3 linked regions of the Homo sapiens genome follow. Each later gene encodes a partner of the first gene's protein in a complex. Each region holds a gene or a part of one and is shown in the gene's direction. Other genes may lie near its edges.

Region 1 (3,653 bases):
CGAAACCCCATCACTAGTAAAAATACAAAAATTAGCTGGGCATGGTGGCACGTGCCTGTAATCACAGCTACTCGGGAGGCTGAGGCAGGAGAATCGCTTGAACCCAGGAGACTGAGGTTGCAGTGAGCTGAGATCATGCAACTGCACTCCAGCCTGGGCAACACAGCAAGACTTCATCTCAAGAAAAAAAAAAAAGAAAACCTTGGAGTCATCCTCAATTCCTCTCTTTATTTCGTGCCCCATACAATATGCCAGCACAATCCTATCATCTTTTTTCAAAATGACACCCAGAACTGACCACTTCTCACCACCACCAATACCACTGCAAAGGGCTGAGCCACCAGCATCTCTCATCTGGACTATTAGAGTAATTTCCTCACTGGTCCCTCTTGTGGCTCCCACCTGGCTCAAGGTCCTCTGACTCCTGCCCAGCTCTCCTGATTTGGTCTCTTCCCCACCCTTCTCTGCTGTCTACTCTCACTCTCTCCATTTCAGTCATGGTGACTTTCATGATACCCCTCACACATACCAAGCCTTGTCCGGCCTCAGGGCCTTTGCTGTTACTATGCTTTCAGCTTGGGACACTTTCTTCTCATATCCTCATGGCTCCCTCTGCTGTCATCTCCTGATCTCTGCTTAAATGTCAACCCAGTGGCACTCCCTCTCCATCCCTCTGCATCTTCTTACCCTGTTTTCTTGTTCTTTACATCACCACCTGACATATCATGTTTTCTGGGTTTTATTTATAGTATGTCTCCACAACTAGATCAGAAGCTCTGCAGGGGTAGGGGTTTTTGTCTGTTTGGTTCACAGCTTCATCCCCAGTACCTAGAACAGTACTTGCCATAGACAAGGTGCTTTATATTTGTTGAAGGACTGAACATGGAGGAGTACAGTGAGGGATGGAAAGAGGAAATCAAAACTCACCCTTGAGCTGATTGGAAAAGACGCGTAGCAGGTCTCCCAGTGGGGGGCAGCAAGTGCACTTCAAATAGAAGACCCAGTGTAAGCAAAGCCTGACCCTCCTTCCTCTACCTGAACCTGTAGGTGCCAGAGGAGGCTAATTATGAGGCGGTCCCCGTGGAGGCCTATGGGCTGGCCATGCTGCGGGGCATGGGCTGGAAACCTGGCGAGGGCATCGGCCGCACCTTCAATCAGTGAGTTCTGGGATAGGGTCGAGGGGACAGACAGATCATCAGGCTGCAATCAAGATCCCCAGGGTCACTGCCAAACCAGAACCACCTAGGCAGGGAGGGAGGATACATTATCGCCCTAACTAATTCAGCAGCCCCTTCCACTACTGTTTTAAACTCCCATTTGCCCTTTGAAACTCTAATAGAATCCCATTTATATAAAGTTTGCCTCTAGGGACATCAATTTCCTCATCTGAAAAATGGGGGTAATAGTACTGACTTCATAGGTCTGTTGTGAGAGTTAAATGAAATTATACACATAGGCCAGGTAGTGGCTCATGCCTGTAATCCCAGCACTTTCGGAGACTGAGGCAGGAGGATCACTTAACTCCAGGAGTTTGAGACTGGCCTGGGCAACATAGGGAGGCCCCATCTCTACAAAAGATTAATTAATTTTAAGAAAAGAAATTAGGGCCGGGTGTGGTGGCTCACACATATAATCCCAGCACTTTGGGAGGCTGAGGTGGGTGGATCACGAGGTCAGGAGATCGAGACCATCCTGGCTAACACGGTGAAAGCCCATCTCTACTAAAAAAAAAAATACAAAAAATTAGCCGGGCATGGTGGCGGGTGCCTGTAGTCCCAGCTACTCAGGAGGCTGAGGCAGGAGAATGGCGTGAACCTGGGAGGCGGAGCTTGCAGTGAGCCGAAATTGCACCACTGCATTCCAGCCTGGGTGACAGTGAGACTCCGTCTCAAAAAAAAAAAAAAAAAGGAAAAGGAAAAGAAATTATATACATAAAGCACATACAGTAGGCCCTGACCCCAAGAAAGCGTAGACTAAACATTTGCTATTGTCATGCAGACTTGCAACCCTTTCTTCACAATTGCAAACTCAATAATTCTGAAAACCAAACATTTTTTCATAACCCATTGGCAGCCAAATATGACCTGAATTGGCGTTTTTTTTTTTTTTTTTTTTTTTTTTTTGAGATGGAGTCTCTGTCTGTCACCCAGGCTGGGATGCAGTGGCGCAATCTCGGCTCGCTGCGACCTCTACCTCCTGAGTTCAAGTGATTGTCCTGCCTCAGCCTCCTGAGTAGCTGGGATTACAGGCATGCACCAGCATGCCTGGTTAATTTTTGTATTTTTAGTAGAGATGGGGTTTCCCCATGTTGACCAGGCTGGTCTTGAACTCCTGACCTTAGGTGATCTACCAACCTCGGTCTCCCAAAGTGCTGGGATTACAGGCATGAGCCACCATGCCCAACCATGTTGAGTATTTATAATCCGGTTTCTCCTGCTCGGTGTGAATGTTCATATGATTTCCCCTGTAGAAATAGTATATTTGGTTACAGCGATCTGCCTCTGATCTCACTGTAGATATTATGTAATAGATGGTATATGCAGCATGTTATTAGGTTGAACCAAATGAAATTGCTGTTTCTGTAGGTCAAAAACAGTCCTAATATGAGATCAGAAAGGGCAACCTTGAAAATATTGGTGGGGGCTGGACACGGTGGCTCACACCTGTAATCTCAGCACTTTGGGAGGCCAAAGAGGACGGATCACCTGAGGTCAGGAGTTCAAGACCGGCCTGACCAACATGGTGAAACCCTGTCTCTACTAAAAATACAAAAATTAGCCGGGCATGGTGGCATGCGCCTGTAACCCCAGCAACTCGGGAGGCTGAGGCAGGAGAATCCCTTGAACCTGGGAGGTGGAGGTTGCATTGAGTCGAGATCGAGCCATTGTACTCCAGCCTGGATGACAAGAGCAAAACTCCATCTCCAAAAAAAAAGAAAAGAAAAGAAAATGTCAATGGGGCGGGTGGGGCGGGTTTGGGCAGGAAGAGGAAGTAAATAAGGTGTTGAAGACTGTTGCATCCTCTCCAACAAACCCATATTCCTCCCTGCAGAGTAGTGAAGCCCCGTGTCAACTCACTGAGGCCCAAGGGGTTAGGGCTGGGTGCCAACCTGACCGAGGCCCAGGCCTTGACCCCCACTGGCCCCTCCCGCATGCCAAGACCAGATGAGGAGCAAGAGAAAGATAAGGAAGATCAGCCTCAAGGGCTGGTGCCTGGAGGAGCTGTGGTGGTTCTTTCTGGCCCTCACCGAGGCCTCTATGGGAAGGTAAGGAACCAAGATATCCCGGGAGCCCAAAACAGGCAGCAGGGAAGGTTGATCCGAGGGTCAGATGGAGGAATAATTGGATTTGAGGTAGAAAGGCTGGGACTCCTAGTCTTTTAGGTCTGCTTGGCCCACTGCCTCACTCAGTAACCCAGGACCACTTGCTGGCCTTTGTGAGCCTCAGTTCCCAGCTAAAAGGAAGAGAATGCCATATGCCACAAGTCCCTGAAGATTAAATGCTTAAAGGATCCAAGGAAGCCCCACAGTCAGCTGAGGGAGACACAGGAACCAGACCTGGTCCCACTTCTCAGGGGTCAGAGTCTGGTTGGGGAGACAGAGGAAGCAGGCCTCTTAGAGGTAAGGGGTTGACATCTTGGTCCTAGGAATGTGG
Region 2 (3,653 bases), on another chromosome or scaffold:
TACTTTTCTGTTAACTTTTACCCTTCTAGACTTCACCAAGAAATCATACTAAGTAAGAGAATTGGCCACCTTCTCTTTGGCTTTTAACTGGCTTCTGAAAAGTAGCTGATTATAGGGCCAGTAAGCTCCTTTTACCAGTATTAAAGTAATTCATTTGCTGTTATACTTTGAGAAAAGTATTTTTATGAATTTTTTATAAAATTCTCAGAAAATTCTCATTATAGAAGTAATGAAGCTTATAAGTAATTCAGACAGAAATAGCATAACTTGGAAGTTTTCCATAATCCGTGGGGGAATATATCTATATTCCATAGATATAATTGCTATTACTAGTTTAGTGTCTGGTTATTTTTCAAAACCCCAACTGTACCAGTGTTCTTTTTTTTACATCATTCTAAAATGAGCATAAGATAAAATATTTGAATCTTGGATATATCACTTTAAACAAAAATTAGTGGCTAAGTCTACCCAAAGTAGAGTCCTAGTGCACTGGTAGCAGTTTTTGTGCCTTCTTGCAATACGTTTCACCTGGCTTGGGAAGAAATGCCGATGATTAAGCTTCCAGTTATTTTGGACAGAATTTTTTGTTTGAGTCTTTTAAAGTTCTTTTCAGGGAACCAAATCAATTTGGAAATAAAGAGGGGAAAAATCAAGTAAGCTCTGTAAAGTTACTTTGTTTCTGCAGTCAGGTTTTTCAGAGTCCCATATTTTGAAAATTTTCTTTGGGGAGGGGTTGTTAAGATATATTGAACTATTACTACTGTTGCAAAGAATTGATGTGTTGTGCTCATAGAGGAAATTAGTGAGGTAAATGGTCAGTCAATTTTCAGGCATCACACTTTTCTAATTCCCTTTTAGGAGAAAAGTAATGCTGGTGCTTCCTAGTACAAGATTAGTGGAAACAGCTATTTCTTATACTGGAGTTTTGCAAACAGCATGTTTAAATTGTGCTTACTCAGCCATTTAGCAGTCAATATTTTACAGATTGTTTAAGATTCCCTTTCAGCCAGTTTTTATCTCACACTTAAGGTAGGGTTTCTTTTTTTCAGGTTCTCAGGAATTCTTCCGCCAAAGGTGAATTCTGCAGGTACACATAATTGCAACAGAACTTAACACAAATTTTGCCGCAGAATTCGAGAGGCCCCTGCTTCTAAGTTTATGTAGCTAAATGAATTCTTAGTTTTGCACATCTTTTTTAAAAATGCAACCTAAAGGTTTCTCAACATTGTGTTATTAAATGGAAAATACCTTGCCCCCAAATTTTATATGCAAACTCCAAAACACCAATACCATTCCTAAGGCAGAAGGACTAGTTAGTTATTTTATTATAGCATTCAACCTGACAAGTTTTATAACTGGAGAGAGAACACAGACAGAAGTATTTATCAGATTAAGTTGTTTATATTAATCTCAGAACTAGCTGTTTCCTGGCCTAGGTTATGGTTTTTTCCCCCATTCTTTTGGACTCATTTATGTGCTTAGCTACATAAACTCAAAAGTCGGATTAAAATAGCTGTATTTTTGTGTAAACTGTTCATACCTGTAAGGCCGTTCTTTATAAGTGTGCAATTAGTGAATATGAATACTTTATTCCACAGAAGAAGACGTTCGTCAGCATCCTTGTCTGGGAGTAGCTCATCATCCTCTTCATCTCGTTCACGGTCACCACCAAAGAAGCCTCCCAAGAGGACATCCAGCCCCCCTCGGAAAACTCGTAGGTTATCTCCTTCAGCAAGTCCTCCAAGGCGAAGGCACAGGCCATCACCTCCTGCAACTCCACCACCCAAAACTCGGCATTCCCCTACACCCCAGCAGTCAAACCGTACAAGAAAAAGTCGTGTTTCTGTGTCTCCAGGGAGAACTTCAGGTAAAGGTAAAAATCAAACACATATGAAACATGGTCTCTCTTTCTTTGGCTACAAAGCGTAGTCAGTTATTGCCCCCTGCTCACTCTCAAAGTATGAAATAGCTAGATAATATTTGTATCTAATACTCTCTGTAGGTTTACTTATAAGCCTACCTCTTTCCTGCTTTAAAATCTTGGGGCTTTTTTATGTGTAAAAGGGTTTTGTTTTTAGCAATGCCCTGTGGCATTGCGCAGGTGGAGAAATCTTTTACCAGCCGTGGGCTGTTTGAGTTGGGGTAACATATCAAAGTTTGCGTTGGCATGATAAGGGATCATTTTATTACTATGAGACCAGTTAACTTTTTTTTCTCCTGAAGATTTTTGGTTTGATATCTTAAATAAGAGGACTTCATATTCTCTTTTAGTTCTTTCTTGGTCGCATTGCGCTCCCAAGCAAAGGACATGGTGTCCTCTTAAAAGCTGATTTGTTTTTTTAATTTAGGTTCTAGGCAGGGTTCTTCTGAGTGTTGTCCTTGCTTTATTCTGCAGATTGATTTCTGAGGAATTTATGATCTGTGAACCTGCCAGGCAAGTAGAATGCTGTGTTAGTCTGAGTGAAGGTTGTGGTCTATTGGGGTTTGTTCTGTGAGCATTAAATACGCATGGAAAAAACTGTAGTGTCCATTTGAACCAGGCTCTCTGGAGCTTAGGGCTGGAATGATATACAGCCTAAAAGGTGAGTAGTAAGGGATGGGGAGGATCTTAAAAGCTGCTAAAGCAATTGAGTTTTAAGGAGCAATCTGTAGGTTAACACACGCTGGGGTTATTATGATCATATTGAAAATTTCAGGTTAGAGCCAGGTGTGGTGGCATGAGCCTGTGGTCCCAGCTACTCAGAAGGCTAAGGCAGGAAGATCACTTGATCCCAGAAGTTCAAGGCTGGCCTCAGCCCCATAGCGAGATCCTGACTCTTAAAAAAAGAGAGAGAAAAAATTTCAGGTTAGAAACAAAGAAATGGGGATGGGCAAAATTTTCATTATACATTTTAATGAGCTTGATGAGACCAGCATTGCTAATTATTCACCCTGTTGCCTTATCTCCCCACTCCCCAAGGCTGCAATGTGGTGATACCTAGAAAGGCAAATTTTGCTTTCCTTTTTTGTATCTGTGACAATGAGGCATAGATAAGCTGACAGAGTGAAAGGGTGACCAGCAGATTATGATAGTCTGTAAAAAGTAATGTTTTCTGAATTGTGACATTTTTATTGTAGTGATAGGTTCATTAAATAAGACATGGCCACTTTTGTTGGCCCCTTAGAGAAGCAGCTAGTGAAAGTAGAGAAGCCTGTAACTGTTCCAGGTTCAGTCCTCAGTTTGAGAGAGGGGCTTCGGGATCACTGTTTTCATAACCTCATGTACCATACTGCTTTTCAGCATTGGGAAAATTTCAGTCCATTTTCAGTTACCATGTCCAAATCTGATGCCCATGGCCCTGGCCTATTTTGTCTTTTCCTGTAAAGTTTGTACTTCTGAATATTTATTCTTTGTCTGGAGCCACAAAGCTCTCCAGGGAAAAAAACAAGTGTTTTTACCTGTTACTTTGCAAAAACACATCAAGTGATGATTTTTTTCTATTTATATCATATAGCCTAAGAGTTGCAAAAGTACCTGAACAGAGGGACCAATCCTTGTTAAAATAGGTTGATTGTTAAGAATTATTAGGTACTTTTAAAAAGCATCTGCACAGATGCTAATTTCTTGTGTTTTGGCATATACTTTTTGCAAACAAGACAAGAGTGGATATGTA
Region 3 (3,653 bases), on another chromosome or scaffold:
TCTCATTCAATCCTTATAGCAATCCTTTGAATCCCACTTTTACAAATGAGGAAATTGAGGCTTAGAATAATTTACCAAAGGTTACACAAATGCTAAGTGGCCGAGCTGGGGTTTAGATCTTAATTCATCTTGCCCGAAACCTGTGCTTTTAACGCTCAGTGAGAGATCTCAAAACTGGGTTATATGAAGAATGATGGTAGGATTTTGGGAGAAGTAGAGGGCTATTATGACCTGGATTTAAATTCCAGTTCTGCCACTTGTTAGCTTGTGACATTGAGAAAGTTACTGAACTTCTCCGAATCAGTTTGCTATTCAGTAGTGTGGAGCCTTTCTTTACAGGATTATTGTGAGAATCGAGTTAGATTATATGAGTAAACCACAAAACACAGTACCTTGCACATAGTTGCTACTCTGTAACTAGGATTTATTATGCCAGCAATCTTGAAAGTTTGTCATGTGGACTTACATCACAGGTCAGAACTAGAATGAATTCAAAGAAGTTATAGGAAGGCAGATACGGTACTAGTAAAACTAAGAACTTTCTAACATTTTTGAAAAATGCAGTGGACTGTGTTGTAAGATAATGAGTTCCTTGTCAGGAAGGGATTGGGCGAGTGACCACTTATTAGGAATACTATAGAGAAGATTCTGATTTGTTCAGAAGTTTAGAAGATATGAAATGTGGTTTTAGCTCTTAAAGATTAATGATTCTGTGTACATCTCAGTGGCTCTTTTTGGTTGTATTCAAGAAAACCTATCACTGTGACTACCTACAACAAGAAAGGATTCATAGAAACCCAAAGTCCTTGATTAGTGCTAGGCATGATGGGGGGAGCCACCTATGTTTCCACTGTTAATGTAGAAGTAAAAGTGTAAAAGGAATTTAGTTGTTAGTTTACAAGTGGCTGTTGTGTACCTAGCAGGTTAATAAAAAGGTTTGTAATGAAAAAAATTAACCTTTGCAGGGTAATTGATTAATTAGAGAAGGATCTACAATTAAACCAATACAGTGACAATCAGATGTTTATGGAGCAAACATAACTGAAGACCCCTACTTACTTCTTCATGACCATTTTGGATATATGTACGCCCTTGTGTTAGGAATCGGAATGGTTGTAACTTCAGGTTCTTGAGACAGTGCTTCTTGGCTGGATCCTGTGGATTTCCTAAGATAGGAAATCTTTACTCTCACAGGTGGCAGAGTTTGTGGATGAGCGGCCAGAAGAGGTAAAGCAGATGGAGGCCTTTCGTTCCAGTGCCAAATGGAAGCTTCTGGGAGGTGAGTTCCAACAATAGATAAATCTAAATTTCCATTAGTAGGGGAGATCTTTTTTCCTTTTCTATACTTTTCTTTAGAGGAATGCATAGTTTGTTTTAGCATGTCATTGATCCTGAAAAATAAAGCAGGAAAAAGGAAGTTGGACTTCTTCAGAGGTAGTAAGACATAGGAACTTATAGACCAGATATTCCTCTTTCTCTTATATTTTGGCATTAGGATTACTGAGGTTGGTGACTAATTTGGAGGCCTTTGAGCACCCATTCCTCTTTGACTCAGAATAGGAGAGCACTTGGTGTATAGGCAAGACTTTGGGAGGAGTTTACAAGAAACAGGAGCAGAATTTGGGGACTTTAGCTACCACTATCCTCTTCCACAATGAAGCAACTCATTTCTGGGGGGTCAAGGACCAGTGTATTTTGTTCTGTTTGTGTTAGTAAATTTCTCTCTTCTTTCCTTAAGTATTGGTGTTTTATAGTGCATTACCCTCCACTTGCCCACTTTGGACTCTTCCTAAGCTAATAATCTTAATTTAACTCTCTTTAAAAAAATTTGAGTCCTTGAGAATTGGATAAAAAGCATTTGTTTGTCACATCTGTTTGAGCATAGACTAGTCTTATTTGCCATGATATTCCCCTATCTAGCACAAGGAGCTACCTTTAATAAATATTTGTAGAATTGTTTAATTGCTAGTAGGTATTTGATTTTTGTAGCCTAATCAGAATTCTTTTCCAAAGAGAATCTTTTGGTCTCCATGTCTGTTTGTCTAGGAAGACACACAGACACACACATACACACGGTGCCTTTTCTTGTGTATCTGAATGTTTAGAAGGTCAGTCACACACACACACAGTCACACTCACACTCACTCACTCCTTTTCTTCTGCCTTGCTTTCACTCCCCCATCCCAATTTGTTATTGGAAGTACGCTTACCAATCTCTGACCCTTGCTTCCTTCAGATTTACTGTTAGGCCCCCCACAGACATCATACTTTTCTCTGTGGAGTGGATTCCAATCAGATAGGGCTGTTCCCCAAAGTAAAGGAGTTGACTTGGTTTAATTCATCCATTTAACAAGTATTCATCAGTTCCTACCCAGCTTTTATTTGTATTTGGGCTGTGGAGCTCAATGACAAGAAATAGAGGTAGAGGAAGAACTGGATTTTGAAACTGTTCCAGTTGCTATAGATATTTCATTCTGTGGTGCCTTTGAATATGGAAGGTCTCAAACTATGTATTTTAACTTTAAAGCTTTACATATTTTAAAGATTGCACATGGACTCTGGAGTCAAATAGAGCTGGATTTAAATATTCCTCTACCACTTATTAGCAATATGACTTTGGCAAGTTAATCTTTCTGAGTATCAACTTCCTCATCTATAAATGAAATGACAGTATTTATGTCCTAGGCTTGTTGTGAGAATTGAATCAGGTAATCTCTATGAAACACTGGCACACAGTAGGTGATTGGTAATTACTTGCTCCTTTCTTTTTTATGGTGATTTTTCCCCTCTCTAAGAAAGAGCACAGTGAAATGGATTAAATAGTTAACAGCATTTTATTTTGATATTCACCGTTTTAGTCAATTTACCTATTGAAAGAAGAGTGAGTACAAACTATAAAGTATCTAGGCAAAATATCAGTAGGAGCCACTAGCTGGGAACTCTGCACAAATGAGGTTTTAGAAAGAACATTGGACTGGGAGTTAGAAGACTTGGATTCTAGCCTGTGTCTTCATTTTAGGAGCTGTGACCTTAGGTAAGAAATCACTCAGCTCCTCAGCTGAAAACAGAGGCTGTGGCCTCTGTTTTCATGCTGTAATACAAGGGTACCTGCCCTGCTTACCTTAAAGGGTATAATATGAAAAATGTGCTGAAAATGCTTTGCAAATTTATGACTTGGTAGGCGGAGGGGTTATTCTTAAGATATTCATGAGTGGTGGTTTGCTGCCCCTAAGCAAGAAAACTGTGCAGGCCTTTTGGGCTTTCTGAGCAGTTCTGAGGTATGTGCTACTGGAGCATCTTTTGAAACTGGGTGTGGGGGTGGACAGAGGGACAGAGCATTTGTGGGAATCTGACTCTTTGTTATTTGTGTTTAGGCCACAACGAAGACCTACCCTCAAACAGACATTTTCGTCACGATACCCCGGATTCATCTCCTAGGAGGGTCCGTCATGGTACCCCAGATCCATCTCCTAGGAAGGACCGTCATGACACCCCGGATCCATCTCCTAGGAGGGCCCGTCATGACACCCCGGATCCTTCTCCCCTCAGAGGGGCTCGTCATGACTCAGACACATCTCCTCCCAGGAGGATCCGTCATGACTCCTCAGACACTTCACCCCCAAGGAGGGCCCGTCATGATTCTCCAGATCCTT

What was found.
Region 2: GPKOW (region 1) and SRRM1 share a complex: the UniProt entries of both Homo sapiens proteins name them as parts of the minor spliceosome.
Region 3: GPKOW (region 1) and BUD13 share a complex: the UniProt entries of both Homo sapiens proteins name them as parts of the minor spliceosome.

What each region holds. Positions count from the first base shown.
Region 1 is NC_000023.11:49,117,209-49,120,861, reverse strand, and holds part of GPKOW (G-patch domain and KOW motifs-containing protein), read left to right. Parts: intron 1-1,047; coding exon 1,048-1,157; intron 1,158-3,051; coding exon 3,052-3,265; intron 3,266-3,653. UniProt on the Homo sapiens protein: RNA-binding protein involved in pre-mRNA splicing. As a component of the minor spliceosome, involved in the splicing of U12-type introns in pre-mRNAs.
Region 2 is NC_000001.11:24,653,257-24,656,909, forward strand, and holds part of SRRM1 (serine/arginine repetitive matrix protein 1), read left to right. Parts: intron 1-1,049; coding exon of another isoform or gene 1,050-1,087; intron 1,088-1,598; coding exon 1,599-1,873; intron 1,874-2,395; coding exon of another isoform or gene 2,396-2,407; exon of another isoform or gene 2,408-2,434; intron 2,435-3,653. UniProt on the Homo sapiens protein: Part of pre- and post-splicing multiprotein mRNP complexes. As a component of the minor spliceosome, involved in the splicing of U12-type introns in pre-mRNAs. Involved in numerous pre-mRNA processing events.
Region 3 is NC_000011.10:116,762,988-116,766,640, reverse strand, and holds part of BUD13 (BUD13 homolog), read left to right. Parts: intron 1-1,194; coding exon 1,195-1,279; intron 1,280-3,374; coding exon 3,375-3,653. UniProt on the Homo sapiens protein: Involved in pre-mRNA splicing as component of the activated spliceosome. As a component of the minor spliceosome, involved in the splicing of U12-type introns in pre-mRNAs.